Regions from separate parts of the Homo sapiens genome. Here all the other regions are linked to region 1. Evidence: fine-mapped expression QTL. A gene starts in region 1. Each other region holds a variant in brackets. All regions are shown on one strand. Distances are from middle to middle. Region 1 holds the start of PI15 (peptidase inhibitor 15). Region 2 overlaps MIR2052HG (MIR2052 host gene). Region 3 has its middle 88 kb from the start of MIR5681A. Region 4 has its middle 98 kb from the start of MIR5681A. Region 5 holds the start of MIR5681A (microRNA 5681a). Region 6 holds the start of LINC03071 (long intergenic non-protein coding RNA 3071).

What was found. PIP is the estimated chance that this variant, and not a neighbour inherited with it, causes the effect.
Region 2: its variant is the best candidate, but not a certain one, in a credible set for the expression of PI15 in iPS cells (PhLiPS, PIP 0.64).
Region 3: its variant is the best candidate, but not a certain one, in a credible set for the expression of PI15 in nucleus accumbens (GTEx, PIP 0.69).
Region 4: its variant is the best candidate, but not a certain one, in a credible set for the expression of PI15 in prefrontal cortex (CommonMind, PIP 0.58).
Region 5: its variant is the best candidate, but not a certain one, in a credible set for the expression of PI15 in thyroid (GTEx, PIP 0.58).
Region 6: its variant is the best candidate, but not a certain one, in a credible set for the expression of PI15 in subcutaneous fat (GTEx, PIP 0.72).

The regions. Positions count from the first base shown.
Region 1 is chr8:74,822,458-74,826,548 of GRCh38, forward strand. It overlaps PI15 (peptidase inhibitor 15), which reads left to right and starts at 2,077. Exons shown (of 6, transcript NM_015886.5): 1 at 2,077-2,218; 2 at 2,753-3,065. The coding sequence starts at 2,793.
Region 2 is chr8:74,601,108-74,605,198 of GRCh38, forward strand. The region is part of intron 1 of MIR2052HG (MIR2052 host gene); the gene reads left to right. It also overlaps the pseudogene PCBP2P2. Among named protein-coding and RNA genes, the nearest start is that of MIR2052HG, 3.4 kb to the left of the region's middle. RefSeq lists an enhancer at 377-1,576. The variant C/CA (reference allele first, on the strand shown) is at 1,932.
Region 3 is chr8:74,458,570-74,462,660 of GRCh38, forward strand. It overlaps a transcript of GDAP1 not described here. Among named protein-coding and RNA genes, the nearest start is that of MIR5681A, 88 kb to the right of the region's middle. The variant A/G (reference allele first, on the strand shown) is at 2,505.
Region 4 is chr8:74,448,332-74,452,422 of GRCh38, forward strand. It overlaps a transcript of GDAP1 not described here. Among named protein-coding and RNA genes, the nearest start is that of MIR5681A, 98 kb to the right of the region's middle. The variant G/GT (reference allele first, on the strand shown) is at 1,756.
Region 5 is chr8:74,548,499-74,552,589 of GRCh38, forward strand. MIR5681A (microRNA 5681a) reads left to right here and starts at 45; the gene lies at 45-119. It overlaps MIR5681B (microRNA 5681b), which reads right to left and starts at 111; the gene lies at 52-111. The variant C/G (reference allele first, on the strand shown) is at 1,607.
Region 6 is chr8:74,632,317-74,636,407 of GRCh38, forward strand. The region is part of intron 2 of MIR2052HG (MIR2052 host gene); the gene reads left to right. It overlaps LINC03071 (long intergenic non-protein coding RNA 3071), which reads right to left and starts at 1,016. Exons shown (of 7, transcript NR_183468.1): 1 at 919-1,016; 2 at 134-186. The variant G/A (reference allele first, on the strand shown) is at 1,752.

The DNA.
Region 1 (4,091 bases):
GTTTAGACAAGTTTGTCAAGCATCACATTTTTATCCCTATGGAAATCTTTCAAGTCAAACCCCAAGAGGTGGACAATACCTCTTTGTGTATATGACAAAGGGTGTAGTCTTAAATATAACTTTCGATTCTTATGAGGTTCTAAGCAAGAACTCAGTCACCCTGGAGAATGAAAGGCTCATGACTGCTGTTCAGGTATTAAAAGTCCTTTTGTTCCTCAGATAGCTGGGAAACTGTGTGAGATATGTAGAGAGTAAAGGCTAATGTGTGCTGCCACTAATTTCTCAAAAAGTCCACAGATCTTAGAGCTGGATGGCCTACAGAGAGTTTCTCATCTAACCTCTGATTTAATTCAGGAATCCTTAATATAGCATATTTGAGATTCATTGAAGGTGCCATGAATACTTTCCAAAGTGGTGCAACCCTAGTTGGACAGCTCCACTTGTTAAGATCTGCAGCTGTGAACAACCATGTGAATTTCCTCTAGTTGCTCCAATGTTTCATAATATCCTTGCTCACCTCCTGAGTTTATATATCTGTTTATGCCTTTTCAAGTTTAGTATTAATTCCTTGTTTAAAGCTCTCAATATTTCAGCTATGGCTCTCCTAAAATGATTTCACTTTAGTTAGGAGTTGAATAGTCATCAAAATGTGTCAAAACCTGGACTTTGGTATATATTATTATAAAGTCTGTATCTCATCACTGTAGTTTGAATTTTAGTGACACCTCTGGTACACCTCACTACCCTCTTAAAGAACTTGATGATGTCTGTCTCACCATAGAACGTGAATCTTTTCTCTCCCATTTTTAGGTGCACCAATGAAGAGTTAAACAGTATGCATTTGACCACACATACTACTCGTGATCCAACTGGGAATATATCCTAGGAAACTTGGCTGCCTGTCCAGTGTGCCACATGACCATCATTTCTGATGACTGTAAATTCACATAGTATTTCTTCTGCTGAAACATGTGGGAGACAATCACATTAGCAAGCTGGAAAAAATCAGTGTAAGTTAAGTAAGTTTCTAAACTGAAGAGCGTGTGTTTTCCAGGATTCCTATTGCTACTGACTGTAAGTGGTCCACATTTTGTTAATGAGATCATGACGCATTTTGGGGAGGGTCCTTTCATTATAGAGCACCAATGTTCACATTCTTCTTCTTGCTTTGCCTGACATAGACTTTGCCCCTGTGACATCCTCCTAACAAGGCACTTCTAATTGTTGGCAGCTGCTGCTGCTGTTAAAATTCTTCATGGCCTCTGTGTTATGCCCTCTAATACATTTCCTGAGAGGCTGAGCTATTCTCTGCTTAAAATTTCAACTATATGCTCTAAACCTGAAACAGATGTTATCTTGGCTGCTGTCATTTGCCATGAGCTTCTCTATTCACATTTTATACAAGGCAGGTAAAAAGCAAGTAATTTCTGACCTCACTCTGTAGAGAAAGAAAAAAGGGAGAGAAGGTAAAATAAGAGAGAGAAGAAGAAATATATAAAGCACAGGAATGCAGCCACATGGAAGCAGAGAACACAGCCACTTGAGCATCTATTATCCTAATATCATATGCTATAGTTTGGTTACTACCGATTTGCCTGGCATCCCTCTCGAATCATATTTGTGGCCACCCAGATTAACTATGTTAGCTGATCTCTTGATTTAATATCAGCTTGTTCTTTTTAGCTCCCATGTCATTTACTGTCTTAAAAAAATGTACTGCTTGTTACTCAACTGTCTGTTTTTTCATGAACCCACAGTCTTTTTTTTTTTTGTCTTTGTTTCTTCTTTTTTGTATGGGAACCAGGAACTAGAAAGCATAAAATGAGAGAAATTACTCACAGAAAAGGTGGAAGCCCAGAGAAAAAGGGGTTTGTCTTTTATGGCTTGTACTTTGTAAGCTGTGGGTGTGACTCAATTTCCTCACCACCCACATAAAAAGGTTGCCACCCAATCACTGTTTTTTTCTACCCCAAACCCCTCCCCTTTGATTTTGGCTAAGAGAGACCCTTAGAAAGACTGCCCTTTCTGGACGTTGCAAACTGTGACATATAAAAGCTGTTAGCTGCTCCTCTAGCCAGCAGCATTCAAACCTTGCAGAGCTTTGCTCTCAGAGAGTTTGTAAAAAGACACACTCCTCTTACAAGAGTTCATGCTACCACATAGCAAAGAACCTTAAATTTTTGGAAGAACAATATATTCATTTTGGCATTGTGCAGAGGTAAGCTATTTAGCTCAACAAGTTTATATTGCATGCATTGATTTTAAAGTAGCTCACATTTTTTTAAAGAAATGAGATTGGATTACTATGACTTTTTTGTATGTGTTCTATCACTTGGTGTGTCTATATGTCTGGCAGACATTATCAGCACATTCTCTGTTGTTACCTGTGATTCATTTTTTCTTCACTCTCCAGGTGAATTTCAATTGCTGAAAATTTCCCACTGAAAATATGCAGTAATATATTTTGTGGTTCAGACATTTGGGGCAAATGGTTCACATTCATTTTAGGGTTAGTGGTCATGCTGTTTATTTTTCTCTGCTATACAAAGTTCCTCTTAGGGGTCTGCCTCATGACACTAAAAAATGAATAGAGATTCTACTGTAGGTTATCTCCTAGGCTTGAGTTCAACATTTGTTTGGATTTTTGAAGAAAGTCAAATCAAGCAATGCTCCCAAATGATGTCTTTGTAAATTCATACCCTCTGGCCCTATTTTTTTTCATAGACCCTAACTCTACCTTTCTGCTTTAAAGCAAAGTAAACTCGGTGGCCTCTTCTTCTCCACCCCTCAAAATGATAGCAATCTCTGCCGTCAGCAGTGCACTCCTGTTCTCCCTTCTCTGTGAAGCAAGTACCGTCGTCCTACTCAATTCCACTGACTCATCCCCGCCAACCAATAATTTCACTGATATTGAAGCAGCTCTGAAAGCACAATTAGATTCAGCGGATATCCCCAAAGCCAGGCGGAAGCGCTACATTTCGCAGAATGACATGATCGCCATTCTTGATTATCATAATCAAGTTCGGGGCAAAGTGTTCCCACCGGCAGCAAATATGGAATATATGGTAAGAAGAATTCTTTTTTTTTTTTTTAAGTTCTGAGTGAGAAAGCTTTATATTGTACATCTGCAGAATCTCAAACGACCACGAGTGTTTATATGTCCGGGTATATGGACTTTTTACATATTTTAACCTAAGGTTCTTATGTGCCTAATAATGTTGAGTACTGTTGCATCACAGAATCAGAGAGACAGAGAGGTCCAGAGAGACAGAGACAGACAGATAGAGAGAATCTATGTAGACTTTCTTCTGTGAGTTCCATAGCTACTGGTGAATTGTATCTTATGTAAGAATCATAGATAAAAAGTGGGGTATGTTGACTGATCACATTTGGAAGGTCCACTTTAAAAAAAGTCACATGAACTTTTTCTGTGCTTTATCTCACAGTCATATTTATCAGCTATATCATTTCTTGAAAATACTTCTTAAAATTATAGGTTTCATATGCATGATTTATTCTCTGGGTAGGTGTCTTTTCCCTTTTTTGGACAAAGTTCTTACTGACGCTAACCTATTTGTATTCTAAGAGAACATGCTGACTTTTTTCTCCTTGTGATTTAATGCTTTGCTGTCCAGATAACAGTGAAGCCAGTGCATTTGCACACTGTTCCAACTTGCCGTGAACACATTTTTTGCTCTTTCTTAAAAATAGACAATGTTTAAATCATTTTACTTAGAAAGTAAAAAAAAAAGTTAGTATTGAAAGGAAAAAGTCTTGTTAAAATTTTTATTTGGTTTTGAATTTATGCAAGGTTATGATTTAAAGTCCAGCGTCTTACAAGAGCACAGCTTGGAGCCTGTTTAAGGCAATGAAGACCATCAATATGGTATTTCCAAATTGGGGTGAGGGGAGGGGGTACCACTAACAGTTTTATATGTGCTGAATTAAAATTTGGGATTTTTATCATATTCTAGATTCACTTGTTTTATGTAAATAAGTTATATTAAAAAGTTTGGCTAGTTGCAGATGCCAATGTCACAGGAAAACTAAAGACTTGCTAAATGATGTAACAGAGTCACAGTTCATAGAAG
Region 2 (4,091 bases), 220 kb before region 1:
TGGCTAGGAACTCAGCCAATTTGTTTTCTTTCCTCAATTTCTTCTTAATTATTTGTATTTATATAAGCATCTTTACTGCAGAGGCCAAACCTCTTATTCTTAAATTCATAGTCCACTACCATTTGTCTGTAATCATTCAAGCTTTATCAAATTTATTATGTCTCAAAGCACTCCAACTGGAATTGCCATTCCTGGAACTTGTTCTTCTTGTTCTCATTTTGGTGTCTTTGTTCATGCTATTCTGTATAAGAGAGTGTGCCCATAACATAAGGGGTAGGCTGTGAGTGGCATACATTTTCCTGTCTCCTACAGAGACTGCTTGACTCCCTCATCTGTACGTGTTAAAATCACCCCACATTCCAAGGCCCAGTTCTTTAGGAAGTTTTCTTCAGTGTCTTCAATAGGAGTAAATCTCTCTCAGTTCCATTTGCCCAAGGATCTTCTGGTATAATATTGATCAAACTTTATATTGAATTATATTGATTAATGCTTTTTTGACAAATAGTTAATTCCTAATATGTGTACAAAACCTTTCTTGTTTTCTCCACTAAATCATAGCATATTTTAGGATAAGAGCTCAGTATTACTATTTTTTGTATCCCTTAGGCTACAGCAAAATATCAACACAGTAAACATTTAATTGATACTTGATTTGATGGTGAGCTGGCATTAGCTGACTGTACTTACTAATACCAGATTCTGACTGGCTTGTCTTACATTACTCAGGAGCATTATTAATCATATTTAAGTGAATAAATCTCATTATCTTCTCCCCTAGAATCATACTTCACTGTCCAAGTGAAAAGCAGATTATTCACAAGTCAATGCCTGTATTTTAGAACTTCTACTCTAGTAAATTTTAATTAGTTTTCACACTTGAAATTGTCAAAAGTGTTCAATCCAGAGAGACTCCATCCTGAATAGGGTCTGGGTAAAATGAGACTGACACCTACTGGGCTGCATTCCCAGGAGGTTAGACACTCTTAGTCACAGAATGAGGTAGGAGGTTAGCACAAGATACAGGTTACAAAGCTCCCGCTGATAAAACAGGATGTGGTAAAGAAGCTGGCCAAAACCTGCCAAAACCTTCCAAAACCAAGATGGTGATGAAAGTGACCTTTGATCATCCTCACTGCTTATTAGATGCTAATTATAATGCATTAGCATGCTAAAAGATACTCCTGCCAGCATCATGACAATTTGCAAATGCCGTGGCAAGGTATGGAAGTTACCCTATATGGTCTAAAAAGGGAAGGAACCATCAGTTCCAGAGATTGCCTGCCCCTTTCCCAGAAAACTCATGAATAATCCATCCCTTGTTTAGCATATGATCAAGAAATAACCATAAAAATAGACAACCAACAGCTACTCTGCCTATGGAGTGGCCATTCTTGTGTTTCTTTTCTTTCTTTCTTTTTTTTTTTGAGACAGTCTTGCTCCATTGCCCAGGCTGGAGTGCAGTGGCGCGATCTCGGCTCTCTGCAACCTCTGCCTCCTGGGTTCAAGCAATTCTCCTGCCTCAGCCTCCCAAGTAGCTAGGATTACAGGCACATGCCACCATGCCTGGCTAATTTTTGTATTTTTTTTTAAGCAGAGACGGAGTTTCACCATGTTGGCCAGGCTGGTCTCAAACTCCTGACTTTGTGATCCACCTGCCTCGGCCTCCCAAAGTGCTGGGATTATGGATGTGAGCTGCCATGCCCGGCCGTGTTTCTTTCTTTCTTTCTTTCTTTCTTTCTTTCTTTCTTTCTTTCTTTCTTTCTTTCTTTTTTCTATTCACAAAGAAAAAGCTCCAGTCCATTTTTAAATTTTTTTGAAAAATTCCTGACTTTACAGTACTAAACTGAAATGTATTAATATTCCATTCTTAACATTTCCATGACAGACAGAAAAATTCATGAGCCAAAACAAAACAAAACAAAACAAAACAC[C/CA]AAAAAAAAAAAAAAAAATCCCAGGTAGAAGCTTATAAAACTAAATATGGATCTCAGCACCAACAGCTGAACAGAGAAAGGAATTAAAACACTTTAAGTAAAAAATCACGAGTGGATGATAAAGTGTGTAGAAACTGAAAATTTACAAACTATTTAAAACCTGAAATCGCTGACTGTTCAGAAACTACACAGATGGATCATGGGTGGTGGTGAACAGCAGAAAGGGATTGTGGATAAATCTGCATTGTTCTAGCTGCTCCCCATGCCACCCGTCTCCGAGGAAAGCCTGACATTGATTAGATATTGAGCCAGGCTAATGCTGGCAGCAGATCCAGTGATGGTAACCTGCCTATCAGTAGATCCTTCCACTGGGTTCGCAATTTTGATCTGTGCCCCAGACATCTGACGGATCTCATTTATTTTGGCGCCTTGACGCCCGATTATGCAGCCAATCAAATCGTTTGGAATGGTAAGTTCATGAGAAGTAGTCTGAGCAGATGTATCCAAACCTGCACTGAATCCAGTGTTGCCATGCGTCATGGGAAAATGAGACTGTTGCATTGCCAACTGGTGCAGCATGGTCAAATCTGGCTGTGGAATGGCAAACTGTCCTTGAAGGGTATAGGCCTGACCGCCTGCAAAGATGACCGGAGAGCTGGAAGGCTTGAGCTGGTACGGGATGGTCACGCCCTTCGGGGGGGACTCCAACATGACCACACAGATCTGTTTGACACACTCAATGATGGATTGTGGGATGCCAGCAATAGTGATGGCCTGCTCAGTTGAGTTGGGTAGCATATCCCCTGCCATCTAGACCTGAGCCCCTGTACTCTCTCGTATTTCCTTGATCTTGCAACCACCTTTTCCAATGAGAGAGCCACACTGACTAGCAGGGACCACCAGCCTCAGGGTGACTGGGGGTCTAGTGGCAGCTGTGCTACTGGTCATAGAGCTGCTTATGTCCTCTTCCAGTTTGTCAATGATCATAGCAAAGCCTTTGAAGACGGCATTAGCAGGTCCAGCAAAAGTGATAATTCTCTCAGGACAATTCCCTTCTGAGATGTTGATAGGTGCACCACTCTCCTCGCGCATCTTCTTAACTGATTCTCCTTTCTTTCCGATGATACTGCCAACTTCCTTTCCATGCATAAGTAGTCGGATGGTGAGAGTGATATTTAATCCACCTTCAATCACACTGGTTTCCATGTCGAGCAGTGTTCTGGGGAGCTGGACTTTGAGTGGTCAAGTCTTTGGTCACTGATGGGGGGTGAAAGCCAAAAACTGCTGGCGCGAGGCGACTGAGGGGAAAAGGGGAATGGGCTGGAAGGGGAAGGGCGGGAGGCCGGGGGCGGAACAATAGGGGCAGGCGGGAAGGTGAGGGGGGGCCCCGCGGGCGGGCGGAGGAGGAAGGTGGGGTGGAGGAGGAGGAGGAGGAAGGGGGAAAGAGACCCCGGGGCGGGTGGGGGTGCCGTGGAGGGCGGGCGGGCGGGAGAGGGTGCAGACTGCGGCTGCTCAAGCTGCTCTGGGCCGGCCTTGTTTCTTTACTTTTTTTTTTTTTTTTTTTTTTTTTCTGAGACGGAGTCTTGCTCTTGTTGCCCAGGCTGGAGTGCAATGGCGCGATCTTGGCTCACTGCAACTTCCGTCTCCCAGATTCAAGCGACTCTCCTGCCTCAGCCTCCCTAGTAGCTGGGATTACAGGCATGTGCCACCATGCCTGGCTAATTTTTGTATTTTTAGTAGAGACGAGGTTTCACCACATTAGTCAGGCTAGTCTTGAACTCCTGACCTCAAGTGATCCTTCCATCTCAGCCTCCGAAAGTGCTGGGATTACAGGCGTGAGCCACCGCACCCGGCCGTTTCTTTACTTCTTTAATTAACTTGCTTTCACTTTACCCTGTGAGCTCATCCTGAATTTCTTGCATGAGATTCAATAACTGTCCCTTAGGGTCTGGATCAGAATGGCTTTCTGGTAACAAAATGACTGATTGTTTTTTGTCACTGTGTCTTAAGACCCATATTCTGCCCTTCATGATTATCAGTCACATGGGCCCTTGTTGCACCCTAACTTCATTTCTCTAGAAGACAGCTCTTCTTTTTGGGTTCCTTAGGACCCCGCCTTCCTCCCCTCATCAAAGATGCAGAGTCTGTGGTTTAGGTTGC
Region 3 (4,091 bases), 360 kb before region 1:
AGAAGATACTTTGATGAATTGTGTTTGTTTCTTCTTGAGTTTAGTGGGATATTGGAGCATTTCAAGACTAGTTCTCAAGTTGTAAGGATCCATTTCCACAGGGATGATATACCAGGTTAAATAGTGTCACCTCAAAATTCTTATCTACCTGGACCCTGTGAATTTAACCTTATTTGGAGATAGAGTCTTTGCAGATGAATCAATTGTAGTGAGGTCATATTGGATTAGAGCGGCCCCCAGTCCAATATGACTTGTGTCCTTATAAGAAGAGAGAAATTGAGGCACACACACCAGGTGGGGATTTGAGAGGCAGCCACAGAAGATAGAAAAGAGGCCAGCAGCACGCTCTTCACTGAGCCTCCAGACACCCTGCTGATATTTCAATTTCAGATTTTTGGCCTCCAGACTATGGGAGAAAAAATTTTGGTGGTTTTAACTCACCCTGTTTCTGGTAATTAGTTTGCGCAGCCCTTGGAAACTATACAGGTGATAACTGGGTCTGATAGTGAATTGGTTCACTAATGGGGCAAGAAAATATTCATAAAAATGGAGGGGTACAATCAGACCCTGGTGTGCTGTGCCAACACTTGGTGGGTGGAAGCCCAAAAGAGGTAAGAAAACAAAAGCAGAGAAGTACCAGAAATAACTCAAACAAGCTCTACTTTTCAAAAAAAGAGAGCTTCATCAGTGTCATATATAATGGAAATAATGAGGAGAATGAGACCTAGAGAAAGGGAGCTGGCAGGATATAGATTATCAGACACTTTTGAGAAAACATTTTAAAAGAGCAGCATCTCTCAATCTTGAGTGTGCATAAGAATGACACACAGACCTTTTTAAAAATGCAAGTCCCAGAGCGACCTCTGTGGATAGTAATTCTATAGATCTAGTGTTTTGTCTGGGATTCTGCATTTTGACAGGCACTCCAGGTGATTCTGAGGCAGAAGCTTCTGGCACTTCAATTTGTGAAACGCTAATGCAATGGTGAAGTCAGGGTGAATCAGGGTTTGTGGAACCAGAAACTAATACTATTTAGGGACTTTAAGCAAAAGAATAGGAATAAAATGAATATTTATTGAGTGAGAAAAGGAATAACAAATTATACATTGAAAAGTACAATTGTCTTCCACTTTAAAGACATTTTGAAGTTTCTGCCAATTTTATTTCTTTTGGTTAACAGGTTTGGCTTCCACTGGGATACTTCTTTAGAATATATTTGATGTTTTATATGAATAATTCTGAAAATGTACAAAATTAATTTGAAATTAAGGCATGCGCAGGAGCTATTCAAATGTACTTAAAATTACAACCACATTATATTCAGCAACATAATTCTGAATAAATTACTCTTATGCCACCACTGGATTACTTCCTAATGCAATATGTGCAGGAGCTTTGTCACTGGAATACTTGTTTCTTCAGGCAATTTATCTGTGTTGGTGGCAATCTGTGGGCAGCATTGAGTACAACATCTAGTCTTTAATAAGGATAAAGTGCATCAGATATCCTGAGATACTATCCAATAATTTGGGATGCATAAAACATGTTAATTCAAGCAGACATATTAGTATTCATTGCACTGCTATAGATGTGTGCCCCACGAATGGGGATTCTGATTAATTTCATTCATTATGATCTCCATTAAAAGGAAGAAATACATAATGTTCCTTAAATTGTATGTGTCATGTTGATCAAGCATTTGTTGATAAAGGAGAAATTTATTTTGACTAAGCATCAATGAGAAGGGAATGTTCCATTTGTAACTTTCTACTGATTAGTTTCTGGCTCTGAACCTTCCAAATCTTGATTCTCCTCCATTTCAACACAATTCTGGTGTCAGTTGCTCTATTACAATACAACTTCTGACCCTGCAACTTCATGTCATGTCGCCAATTTTACTAAAACATATGTCTATGTGAACACATTGCCAGGGCCACTTCCAGGGCCTCAGCTAGTAGACTCCTTTATGGGAGGGCCCCTGAAGCTTAAGCTTCCTTAGCTTAATGGAAAATCTAATACTGAACAGCAGGAACAGAAACTGGCCTGCAGGGAGTAAAGGAGGGCCCAGTGGATAGGCAATGAAGTTCCTGCAGGGGCCTGAGGAGTTAATCCAGGAAGAAATGAGCTATGGAATGGTGGTTATGAAGAGTGGTAGGGTCCTAAGAAAAGGTTCTATTTGTGGAGTTGACCTGTTATGTTTGGGGACATGAATATACAGAGAAAGAGAGAGAGAATGAGAGAGAGGAGGAGAAGGAAGATAAACAGGTGGAGGAGAAAGAGGAGAAGAGAAGACAAAAAGGAAGAGAATTAGAATAGCAGTGTTAAAATGTTCAGTCACAGACCCTGGGCTTTTTGCTTTCTCTTCCCACTTTCTTGGAGTTGGTCTACATTCCTGAAGGCTTTGTCCTTGTATTGGGAGAGGGTATTCTCTATCCTCTTGGGCTTTCCCTACAGAACATCTTCTGCCAGCACTTGGATGTCAGTCTGCATCTGAGGCCACTGCC[A/G]ATGCTTTGTCCCACTTTGGCCTTTGGGCGTTGCACCCTTACCCTCTTCATTTTTCTGCTCTTAGCCATAAATCTGTCCCACATTTCTCTTGTAAAAACCTCTGAGACAGCAAGGAAAGGATTAGAGGATAGGCACAGGAGCATGCTGAGTTAAAAATGGGGTACATAATAAGCTTAAGCAGATTATCCTAATATAGATACTTTCCCGGGAAAGCAGAACATTAATGCTCTGCTCTCTAAAGCCTATTAAATAAACATACATATTATTTAATGACCCTGATTTTTGCCATTGTAAGTTTTAACACATAAATTCTTTATCAAAATTAATCATGAAAGACTGCATTGTAAATAGATTTTCTTTGGCTATTGAGGAGCTAGGTCTTTTAAGAGATTTTGGAACCTGTTGCCTAAAAATAACAACACAATTCAAAGTGCCCACATTTGGCTGTGTTCATATGCTGCCAAAAAAATTCGGAAGAAAAGTGAAAAGTTCACCCATTCATTTGGATATTTCCAAGTATCCAGATGTTTGGCATCATCCAGACTAAATGTTAGGTGACTAATTGATTGGGTTGCTCATGTTCCACATGTTTGGCATTGTATGGATAGATTCTGATTATGCTCTCAGACAGGGAAGTACAATGTGTTTTACATGCTCACATGGGACCCCAAAGCTAATGGTGTCAAATGAATTTTTCCTGTTTGACCCCCATGGGTCAAACTCAGTTCAGTTTCACTTGTATTTTTCATTCCTACAAAAATGCAGGTGCAGCTATTTTATTGCCATTAAATCTCATAAAGCACTGAAAGATTTGAATGAGAAAAACAATTCTGTTCCAGCAGAAAGCATTTCATCCTAAGGAATAAAATTTTCCTCTCTTTATTCCAGCAAATGAACAATAAAAAGTATATGAAATCATAGTATCACTGAGTCTTAGAATAAACATCAAAACTTGAATAATTTTTTTAAAAAGATGGAACTAAGAGATGGAATTTTATAAAAACAAACTTTCAGTTAGATGGTATCTAAACAAACTTTATTATTTTAACACATAAAGATTTAAAAGAGTTAAGAATATGGCTAGGTGATTTTAACTATATATAGTGACTCCTTGAGTTCTGTTTGCCTAGAGTTAATTTTTTGTCAAGTACTTCCTGGCTGGGCTGGGCTACTTATTTTTTATTGATTGTGTGTTCTAAGTGGAGCTATAATAGAAAACTAAGAAAATAGATCAATTTAGGGACCAGAGAGCTACCACAGAAGAGCTATTCGCATTAATTTAAGAGACTTGGGCCTGTGAGCATTTCCTTCAATACATCTAATGACTTAATTCAACAAATATTGTCTGAGCTGTTTTCATTTGAAGAGCCTATTTTCCTTAGTGCCTTGGGACATGTAGAGTTGAACAGGGTAAAAATCGTTCATTCCAGCTGATGGTAAGTTAGAGACTATTGGGCAGAAGCAAGCAATTTTATAAAAATACACTGTAGGGAAGAAATGGTACCTACCAAATAGACATTAATGATCAACTGTCAATACTTCAAGACATTGAGACCTGTAGGAGTTACTAACATATTCTTTAGAAA
Region 4 (4,091 bases), 370 kb before region 1:
CCTTTTTATTGCTGAAGAGTTTTGTTATATGAATATGCCACAATTTGCTATCTGGTCTCCTGTTGACAGACATTTGGACATTAGTTTTGGTAGTTTTGAAAGAAAGCTGTGATGCATGTTCTTTTTTTGGACATGTATTTTCATTTCTCTTTGATATTTACAATGAAACTAACAATAATTTTGTAAAGTGTTTTACCAGTGTACACTCTCCCTAGTAGTGAATGAGTGTTCTAGTTGCTCCATGTCCTCACTAACATTTTATTGTTGTTCGTTTTACTGTTGTTAGCCAATCTAGTGGATGTAAAATGTTATCTAATTGTGGTTTTACTTGGCCTTTCCCTGATGACTTTCCTTGATTTTGAGAACCTTTTCATGTGCTTATTGGCCTTTTGAATGTCACATACAATGTGGTCTTTCATGTCCTGACTTATTTTAAGAATTACGTAGTCTGTTAGTTGATTGTAGGAGTTTTTTGGTCAGATATATGCATTACAAGTATTTTCTCTCAATGTGTGGGGCTTTTCATATATTTAATTATGGCTTTTGATTATTAGACATTTTAATTTTATGAAGTCCAAATTAGCAATTAAAAAGTGTTCAGTGCTAATTTGCTTACTGTGTTACTGTATTGTTTTCCTCTAGAAGTTTTATAGTTTTTATTTTTACATTTAGGCAACTTCAAGTAAGTTTTGTGTATGGTGTGAAGGAGGCTCCAAGGTTTAATTTTTTCTATGTATTTATCTGGGTCTTCCAGTATCTTTTATTAAAAAACCTTTCCTCCCCAGTGAATAATCTTAACATTTTTGTCAAAAATCTATTGACTATATATGTTTGAATCTGTTTCTGGGTTGTGTTCTATTTTATTGATCTATTTGCTTATATTTATGATCCTAATTCACCGTGTTGATTACTATAGCTGAAAAGTAACTCTAAAAATCAAAGTTGAATCAACTTTGTTATTCTTTTTCATGATTGTTTTGACATACAAGCTCTTCTGTGTTTAAATATAATTCTCATTGTCAGTTTATATTTGAAAACCTCTTTAGATTTTGATAGGAGTTACATTGAATTTATAGATCAATTTGGGAAGAACTATCTTAACAATACTGACTCTTCAAATTCATGAACATGGTATATATCTTCATTTATTTAGGTCTTAGATTTTTCTAAACAGTGTTTTGTAGTTTTTAGTTCAGAGAATTTGCATATCTTTGTTAAATTTATTCCCAAGTATTTTATGTTTTTTATGTTATTAAATTTTGTTATAAATGTAATTGCTCACAAATTTTATTTTTCAATATGGCACAGTATTGGTAAGTGTATCCTGCAACTTTACTAAGCTCATATATTAATTATAGTCACTGTTTTTGTATTTTTATGTGCAGAATCATGTCATCTGTGAATAAGGGCAGTTTTTGGCCTATTTTAATTAGTTTGACTTTTTTTGTTTTCTTTCCTTATTGCTTTGTTAAAATTTCAAGTAGAATGTTGTAAAATTTCTTTAAGTTTCTGGTTTGCCAAGAGTTTAATTTTAAATAATAAATGAGTGTTAAATGGTTTTGTCTGCATCTTTTAGGTGATCATATGGTTTTCTGCTTTATTCTGTGAGTAAATGAATGAAAACAATTTTAGAAATTTCTACTTTTCAGATGTAGAAATAAAAAATGATACATTCCCATTAAAATACTACTTTAGCTGGATCCAGAAAATGGATATGTTGTGTTTTATCATTATTCAGTTTGAAATATTTCCTTT[G/GT]GTTTTTTTTTCATGGTTTATTTATATGTGTCTTGTTCAATTTCCACATATTCGGTTTAAATATATATTTTATTATTGACTTCCCATTTAATTCCACTGTTGTTAGATAACGTGTTCTGTAAGATTTTAATCTTTGGGCATTTATTAAGATGTATTACATTTATTACCTAAGATATAGTCCATCTTTGTGAGCATCTGATAAGCACTCAAAAATAATGTGTATATTTTGGAGATGTAGTTTTAATGTTCTATAAATGTTAGATAAAGATCATTTATAGTATTGTTGAAGTGGTTTATATATCTACTGATTTTTTTTCTAGGTGATCTATCAATTACTGAAGGAGATGTATTAAAATATTCAATTCTGAATGTGATCTTTTTTGTCCCTTGAGGTCTGTTAATTTTTGTTTTATGGATTTGAATGACTGTATATTAGATGTATTAAATGCATATTAGACACATACACATTTCTCTGGTAGTATTTTGAAGTCTACTTTTTTATATTGATGTAACCACTTCAGTTTCCTTGGCTTAGCATTTGCCTGGAATATTCTTTCCATCTTTTTATGTTTTACTTATGTGATTTTATCTGTAAAGTATATATCTTGTAGTTGTACTTTTTAGATATTTGATTTGGCAATCTCTTTTAATTGCAGCTTTTAGTTTATTTACATTAATATAATTACTGATATGTTTGGATTTATGTCCACCGTTTCCTATTGTTTATTTGAATAATGTATTTTTTTTCCTTTTTATGTTCTCTTTTTCTTTGGGGATAATCAAATTATTTTAGCATTCTATTTAATTATTAAATTTATTTTAATTATAACTATTTAAAAATATCTATCTATCAAATTTGCATTACTTTTTTACTGTTTTCTTTAGAGATTACCAATGCCTCTTTGCTGATTGGAGTTAATATTTTACTGACTTCATTTAAAATGTAAGACATTTTTAATGATATAGCTCTATCTACATCCATCCTTTTTGTCATACATTTTATATCTACATCTGTTACACACAAATCTTAAATGTTGTAAGTTTATGCAAATCAACAAATTTTGCTTTAAGGAAATTAAGAGGCTGGGCATGGTAGCTCATGCCTGTAATCCTAGCACTTTAGGGGGCTGAGGCGGGTGGATCACTTGAGGCCAGGAGTTTGAGACCAACCTAGCCAACATGGTGAAACCCTGTCTCTACTAAACATACAAAAATTAGCCGGGCATGGTGATGCATGCCTGTAATCCCAGCTACTCAGGAGGCTGAGGCAGGAGAATCGCTTGAACCCAGGTGGTGGAGGTGGCAGTGAGCCAAGATCGTGCCCTTGCACTCTAGCCTAGGCGACAGAGTGAGACCCTGTCTCAGAAAAAAAAAAAAAAAAGGAAATGAAAGGAGTTAAGAGAAGAACAAAGGTTATTTTATTTAAGTACATTTTTACCATTAAAAAAATTTTTTTATAGACCTGAGTTTCCATTTGGTTTCATATCCTTTTAACTTAAATAACTTTCTTTGTGTTTGTAAAAAATTTAGATGTATTGGCATGAAGCCTTCTGTTTTTTGTTTATCTTAACATATCCTTAGTTCACATTCTTTTTTGATGGATGCTTTCACTGGTATAGAATTCTATGTTGACAGCCTTTTCTTTCAGTAATGGAAAAAGATAGATTTTTTTTTTTCTTCTGGCCTCCATTGTTCTGGATAATACAGCAGTCATTCCTACTGATGTAACCATAAGTGCATGTGTCTTTTTTCTTCTGACTTTTTAAAAGATTACCTTTGTGCTTTTGTTTTATAGCAGTTGACATAAATGTGCCTTGGTATGCTGCTCTTTATTTTCTTAATTTAATTTAATTTAATTTAATTTAATTTAATTTAATTTTTGAGACGGAGTCTTGCTCTGTCGCCCAGGCTGGAGTGCAGTGGCGCGATCTCGGCTCACTGCAAGCTCTGCCTCCCGGGTTCACGCCATTCTCCTGCCACAGCCTCCCAAGTAGCTGGGACTACAGGCGCCCGCCACCACACCCGGCTAATTTTTTGTATTTTTTAGTACAGATGGGGTTTCACTGTGTTAGCCAGGGTGGTCTTGATCTCCTGACCTTGTGATCTGCCCACCTCGGCCTCCCAAAGTGCTGGGATTACAGGCATGAGCCACTTCGCCCAGCTGCTGTTCTTTATTTTTATACTGCTTGAAAGTCTATGAACTTTGTTCTTTAAGCCAATATTTTGCGCTACATTTGTGACTATTTTGGCCATTATTTCCTCAAGTATTGTTTTTTTGGTCCATGTTTCTCTTTCTTCAATGCATGGATTTCTAATTACACATAAATTGGGCCATT
Region 5 (4,091 bases), 270 kb before region 1:
CTTTATATAGATGATCTCATATATTCCTTACAACTTCCTTGTGAAGTTTTTGAAGAGTATTGCCACCCTTTCTAGTCCCTATTAGACTAGAAAGGGTGGCAATACCTCTTCCAAAAACTGAGACTTGTTGATATTAAGTGAGTTGCCTCAGCAGTCAATGGCACTTTAAAATGTGTTTTACCTATTTTGTAGGATTTTTCACATGTTGTTTTTAACAATGGGAAGGGGATAGCCACTAGAGATACCAATATACACTATTCTGAGCCAAAGAAGCCAAGTTAAAACATGCCTTCATGGCACTTGAATTCTTTATAAAGTAATTTTTGAAGTTGAATTGAGACTTCCTGTTTAGAAGCTTGATTATAAACTCTTGGCTAGTTCTCTGACTTGCACACTTGTGTTCTGCTATTCCCTGGTCCTGAGGCCAGCCTCAGTCCCCCAGGGTTTTCTATTTATAGACCTCTTTCCTCTTTACAATAAACCACTTATTACTTTGGGTCAACTTTCAACCAAACAAGTCTCATTCATATAGGGGTCCTAAGTGGCTTCATCCTCTTAAACAAAGGAAAACCAAGATGGAAACAAGACGGGGAGCATTACATTGACTTGTGAGCAGGTAGTGACCAATAACTAGTGGGTTTTCCCAAAAACACAAAACCAAGCAGATCAAGGTGAAAGGGGTGGGGAAGTGGTGCTGACAGTGGAGGAGAGGGTCTGAAATGATTTTCTTGCTTGTCTCCAAGCTCTCAAGATTTGCAGGTACAAGAGCTCATCCAGGGACCAAGTGCCATCTGTTCATTAGAGACCATGCACGCACCATGGGCCTTAGGAAGAAGAAAAGTCCACTGCAAAGGGATTCTAGAAAAACATAGGTATCGGGTCTTATATGCCATCTGGAAAATGCATAGTTTCCATGACTGTGGAAGTAAGAGGGTATCTCACAGGTCAAGACTGTCCAGGATGCTTCAGGGTTTGCTTGTAGTAAAAGTAATTTTTTTTTTTTTTGACGTGGACTCTTGCTCTGTCACCCAGGCTGGAGTGCAGTGGTGCAATCTTGGCTCACTGCAACCGCTGCCTCCCGGGTTTAAGCAATTCTCCTGCCTCAGACTCCCAAGTAGCTGGGACTACAGGTGTGCACCACCACGCCTGGCTAATATTTTGTATTTTTAATAGAGATGGGGTTCACCATGTTAGCCAGGATGGTCTCCATCTCCTGACCTCGTGATCTGCCCACCTTGGCCTCCCAAAGTGCTGGGATTACAGGCGTGAGCCATTGCACCTGGCCTAAAGTAATTTTTTTTAAAAGTTATTTGTTTTAAAACATTTTGTATTAATTACATTTATCGCCATGCTTCTGGAAAAAGGGTGAAAAAACACTTTGCACATTATCTGGGAAATTATATACAGTGTATTGCTGGAAGTAATGGGCTAAGGATCTATAATACAATATTTTTAGTAATTATGATAAAAGGAGAGAATATACACATTATAAGAAACAATACTTTTGGTATCATCTTTATGATAATGGTATTAGAATTTATTGTGAGTTCTGGGGATTCCTATATCTTTTATTTATTATAGTACTTTGAAGTTTTCTTCTAATTCT[C/G]TATACCAACTTCCAATTTAAATAAGAGAGAGACAACTAGACACTAGAACTAGGAGAGTTACAATCATTTAGTCAAAACTACAATTTTTATGAGAACTGAGGGTCAGGGAAGTTACATGATTTGCCCAACATCACACATCTTGTTAGAGGAAGACCTGGAACTAAAACTGAGGAAAAGATGCAGTGGATTCTTTTTCCTTTTTTGTGCATAAATTTCTTGAATCTTTTCAAATACGTTGCATGGAAACCACTCAGCAAGCAGGTAAGAAAGGGTGTTTGAAGTACAGGATTCTTTCAGAATGCTACAGCCACTCCAAGTCAGCAATGGCTGCCTCTGGCTGACCTTTAGGCAACTTTTACAATCCTGGCTGCCACCTCTTTGATTTTTTTGTGCAACTTAGTTGTCAGTTTAGCAGTTTATGAAGTACTAATATTAAATCACTCTTTTTTTTCCAGTAAAAGTAAAACAAAATATAAGGATTTAAGAATTCTATTTACCTATGTGTATCCCCATTATTCTGTAAACTTCATGAAGTCAGGAAGTGAACTATCTTGTTCACTGTCATATTCCTGGCACTTCTCACATATTAAGGGCTCAATAAATACTGATGTCTTTTGCAGATTTTTAACTACCTGACATGAAATTACCAGTAAATACTTGGGCATGCATTGAAAATATCTGACTATATGAAATGTTTCTCAGGTCTAGGGTAAATATACTTTTAAAAATCTCTCTAAAATGGCTAGCTAGTAAAAGCATTTTTATTTCTACATTTGTGTTTAAAATTTGAGAGTGACTTTTCTAGTAATGAGAAAAATGTTCACTTGTAGGCATGGTTTCATGTAGGACAGAGTTGTGTTTTTACAATTATTCAGTGACGACTCATTGATTTTGTTTTACAAGGTGGATTTTGCTTGCAACTTCATTTGATTTTAATAAAATTCCTATGAAATAGGTGAGATGGGTATTATCATCCCCTTTAGTTTATGTAATGGAAGGTTCAGTGACTAACTTAGACCATTTCCCACCAAAGAGGATTGAAAAAAATCCTGTCACTGGGGCTAAGGACACAGACCTTCTAACTCTAAATCCCATATACTTCCCCAAACTCCATGCTTTCTTTCCAGATAGAAACTATGGCCTTGGTAAATTACTCATTATACCTTGCTGCTTTTTAAGTGTATTAAAGATCACGGTCCTGCCCCTGTTCCACTGGAGGACTGTAGAGGTTACTCAATAGAGAAGGTCAAGTTGCTGGTAGCTTCATGGAACCTTCCCCCTTTGCTGTGAGGTCTCCTCCTTTAATACAAAATTTGGTGGCCTCTGTTATATGCCTCAGTATCAAATCTGCTTATGCAAAATTTCATATTCCTAAAAATCTCCAGATAGCAACAAGCTATATACATTGGTCTTGTAAAAAATTTATTGTAACCAAATGCTGGCAATAGAATTTGGACAGTTCTTCTGAATTTATGACAATACAATTTCAAATCAATTCAACAAATAATGTTGAGTACTGTCTATGATTAAGGTAGATCTTGTGTTTACAAACATAAGACACATTCCCTGTCTTTAGGAAATATGCAGTTTCATGGAAGAGACTAACCTGAACAATTAAACGTACAATGTAATACATGCTAAATAATCAGGATAACCAAGCTGCTATACTTGGTCAGATCAGGGGTTATTTTACAGGTGACACATTATCTGGGGTTTAAAGATGAATTGGATGGAGCGACCATCATTCCAGGTGAAGGAAATGGTGTAAGCAAAGGCATAGAGGCATAATGATGCAAGGCTTTTAGAGAAATGGTAGAAGCTATTGTAGTTAGGTTATACAATTTTTAGGAGGAAATGATGGGAAATGAACATGGGCAAGCATATTGGACTAAAGTTTGGAGTCCTTGCATATCAGATCCTATTTGTGCTTATGGTTCAAATATTCTGGGAAATCTGGTGGACAGATGTAGGTGGTAGGACTTAAGCACCTCAATGATTACAAGCTGAAGTTCAGGGCTGTGGACTATGTGTGATTCAGAGGCAGCCATGTCATATTAATAATGTAACTTTAGCAGGAGACCAATCTATGATACAAGGACCATAGAGACCCTTACCGGTTTATCTATAATAAATATGATTAGACAGGCCGGGCGCGGTGGCTCACGCCTGTAATCCCAGCACTTTGGGAGCCCGAGGCGGGCGGATCACGAGGACAGGAGATTGAGACCATCCTGGCTAACACGGTGAAACCCCGTCTTTACTAAAAAATACAAAAAATTAGCCGGGCATGGTGGCGGGCACCTGTAGTCCCAGCTACGTGGGAGGCTGAGGCAGAAGAATGGTGTGAACCCGGGAGGCGGAGCTTGCAGCGAGCCGAGATGGTGCCACTGCACTCCAGCCTGGGCGACAGAGCAAGACTCCGTCTCAAAAAAATAAAAATAAAAATAAAAATAAAAAAATAAATAAATAAATATGATTAGACAA
Region 6 (4,091 bases), 190 kb before region 1:
GGTGCCACCAGCAGGATGTGTGGCCACCAGAGCCTGCGTTTGTGATTGGGGCTTATTATCCTATAGTGGCCCCGCAGTTTCTTTCAGGGGAGAGCCTGCTTGGCCCGTGTCTCTCCCTGAGTGCTATACTTACCTCTCATCAGCTCATTTATTTTCCAAATCTTCTCTGAGGTGCTGTTATCTTACCTAGGGATTGAAAAAAAAACTTACTTAGGGAGAAAAAAGTTATATTAATTCTGGAAATAAAAGCATTTTAAACTTCAGGCTTAAAAATTATAATTTGCTGCATATTTGAAAGTAAAACACATACAACATCTAAATGTAAATATATTTGGTATGACTTTAATGTTATCCTTCACCAATATTCTGTATGTAATTCTGAATATTTAGGTTGCCAGTGCTAGCCTTTCCCCATTTCCCTGGGTGAGATAATTATCATGGGAACTGGAAGAAATATTATACATGGCTCTTTTCTCTGAAGACAAACTTCTTATCTTGGCATAATCAGCTCGTGTTGATCGGACCCCTACCTCACTGTTTTTATAATAGTCTCTGTTTTATGATATAGCCAATGACTCCCAGGCTGTCTCTGTTTTCTGGCTCTCATCTCACCACTCCTCACTAGTCTGGTTCAACCTTCAGGACTCAACTTTGATAATTCCTCTCCCATGACTATATGATATATCCTACTCTTTTATTTGTTTGTTTGTTTGTTTGTTTTGAGACAGGGTCTTGCTTTGTTGCCCAGACTGTAGTACAGTGGCTTGATCATGGCTCACTGCAGCCTCAACCTCCCAAGCTCAAGCAGTCCTCCCACCTCAGTTTTCTGAGTAGCTGGGACCACAGGCATGTGCCACCACCCCTGGCTAATGGTTTTCTTTTTTGTTTTTTTGTAGAGACAGGGTCTCTTCATATTACCCAGGATGGTCTTGAACTCCTGGGTTCCAGCGATCTTCCTACCTCAGCCTCCCAAAGTGCTGGGATTATATGTGTGAACCCTTTCCAGCACACATCCCACTCTTAATTCCTCATTAGGTGCTTCTAGTGTACGTTACTCTCCATTGTGACACCCCTGGTGGTAGTTCTTAGGCATTATGACTTGTCAGGCACAAGTAAGAAAAAGTCAGCACTCTGGTACCAGGTACTCACAAGCTACTTTTGTTGTTGCTGTTGTTCTGGCTTATTCCCATTCCCTAATCACAAGGCTCCTCCTCAGAATGCCATCTTACCTTGCTAAATGACGGCAGAGATTGATTTCTAGCATTGTCATGTCACTTGCATGAGTTGTACTTGTTATGCGTTTCCTAGGCTCAATGTACTACTAGTTCTGTTACATCTGTTTAGGTATTTGTTTGCATGTGTACTGTTCATTGGGGCTGCACTCAGCATTGATGCTGAGTACGCTAAAGATAGTAACTTAGTTCTAGGCTTATATTGTTGATTGTCCTGATAGATGTATTGGTATGCAATTGGCTGGTTATAAAGACATTCAGAGATGTAACTATGAGCCTTTGACTACTACAAGGATGAAGAACATAATGGAGATATAATGCTCTGTAAACTTAAGAATGGTTTGTACATTTCTAAGTTGGTTAATGCAGTCTTTCATTGGCTTATTCAACAATCACTGGGCACATTAGATGTACCGAGCCTCTTTTAAGAGGGAGAATGAAAGTTAAATTAATAGTTTCTTTCCTCAAATATCTGGGAGCCTAATGGAGGAGGAGGAGGACATTAAGTTATTTCAGTAA[G/A]GTGGAGAGGCTTGATTCTCATTTTACTATCTATTCTAACACTTGTAGAAAGCATGCTTGCTCTTCAGATTTAGGCTTCCTGAAATGTAGGGAGGGCATGCTATTGGAGAATTCAGGAACTAGCAATACTTAGAACAGGCATTCAGGAAAGAGATTTCAGTTTAGGTTGGAGAAAGGGATTGAAAAGACTTGCCAGTTCCCAGAATTAGAAAGACCAGATTACCAGTGTATTAGTAAGCTATTAATTGAGGCAGAGACAACAAGGCAGAGGTTTACATAGACAACCTATGCCCAAATAGTCGGGCCAAAGGCAGGAGAAACTTGTTGCTGACATCATGTAGTATTTGACAGATTATAACCCGTCACCTGTATCTTTACTTATAAGCTGTCATAATTTAGAACTCTTGCAAAATAATTTCTTAATACATTCTTAATACATTTTCACCTTAAATTTTTTTTTGAGTTTTACTATCGTTTTCAAGTAGCAGCAGCAATTATTGTAATATTTACTCAGTGCTTAATCTTGGGATGAGTCCCCTTGGGGACTTATATGGCTTAATATAGTCAAAATTACACTTTTGTTACCATGAGTGAGTAAAGACATTATCTTTAAGGAAGCAACATCATGTAATCTGTTAATACACTGCTCTTATTCAATTTATAAGACCACTGTATACAATCAGGAGACATCTACCACTACTTCATAGGTATCGCAAGACAGAAACGGACAACGAAATCTGAGGGGTCCATAGCTTTATGCTAGTCATGCTAGATTCACTGAGATTTTGGCAGGGCAATTGATTGATTGATTAATTGATCCACTCTTTCCTCAATTATTTATTGAATGTCAGATATGGACATTATGTCAGGAATATGGCTTATTTTTATTCAAAAGAAGGAAAATGTATATTCATTAGTCTAATTTTTATCTAATAATTCCATGAAGAACAAGGTAAGTTACAGTGAAAATGACTTATTAGGATTTTAGAGAAATTTGGGGGGTTGGGGGTGAATGGAAATGTGAGAAAAAGGGAGAACAGCATACCAAAAGGGTATTATGGTCTCATTTGACTGAATACTTATAACAGTTCCACAATTGTAGAATTATGAAATATTTATGGGTACCTATTATGTGCAAATCACTATATTAGGTACAGAAAGCACAAAAACAGATTTTTTTTTTTTTTTACCGTCAGGAAGGTTTACCTCTAGTGAATTGCATTAAACATACATAAATAAATATAACATGAGATGAAGTTTGTCAGGTGTCTAGGAGATATTTGAAAGAGTACATTTTCAGCTCTTTGGGTATTTGGAGGCCCAATGGAGATGTCATTTGCACTGGTCCTTAATTACTGGATAAGTTTGGGATCCACAGATATAGAAAGAAAGAGAATTACAAGTGAAAGGAGCTGTAAGCAAAACCATAAAGACAATAAATTAAAGGACATGCACAGAACACAATTTGTTCCACTTGGCTAGAGTCGAGGGAAATAAAGTTCGAAATTCAAACTGGGGTCATCTTTAATGCCAGGCTGAAGAATTTGACCTTTATTTAATAGGCAATGAAAAATGTTGCTTATCAATGTCAACACGTAATTCGTGGCTGGATTACGCAGCAGGATTTTATCAATCTATGTCATCATGACCTCTGAAATCCAACCTTTGGTCAGGAGCATATATTGATGTCTAAGAACTTTAGGATTAACTTCCCCAGGGAAATTTATAGCACAGCTTTAGATTTGATTCTTTAGAGAATTTTTATTTGAGGCAATATAAAAGTCTGATGTGTGTTGACTACAAGTTTTAAAATAAATGGTGGAATGCTTTTGGTTTGCCAATTTCTGAAAAGTAAAATAATGACATATTAAGTAATGGAAATGTGGGAATTAAAACTTTCACAGAAAGAGCAAACAAACTCATCATTTCTTTCCTTATCTCTGTTTCTGTGTCAGGCCCCCTTCCTGGCTCATGTCTTGTCCTCCAAGATGTCCTCAGTTGCCTCTATTTCAGTTCTTTTTTCTTTCCATGAGGGGTGAGACACCATTTTAGAACTTAGTAAGCCACGCTTGGCCTCAGTGTCCGAAAATAATTGGAGTAATTTCATTTTGTTTCTTCTAGAGGGGGATCCAGAAGGTTCAGAAGTTGACCTGTTCTTTACTTACCTTTCTGTAGACTTTACCTTGTTCCAAGTCCTGCTGGGATGATAGCCTTTAATGTATTTATCACTGTGTGGTGCTCCAATAATCCACCAATTCTGCAAATTTTTGTCCTTGAATTTAGGATGCTTTTACATTTTTTCTCGGAAAACAGTTTTACCAGCTGGCAGTCTGAGTTAAC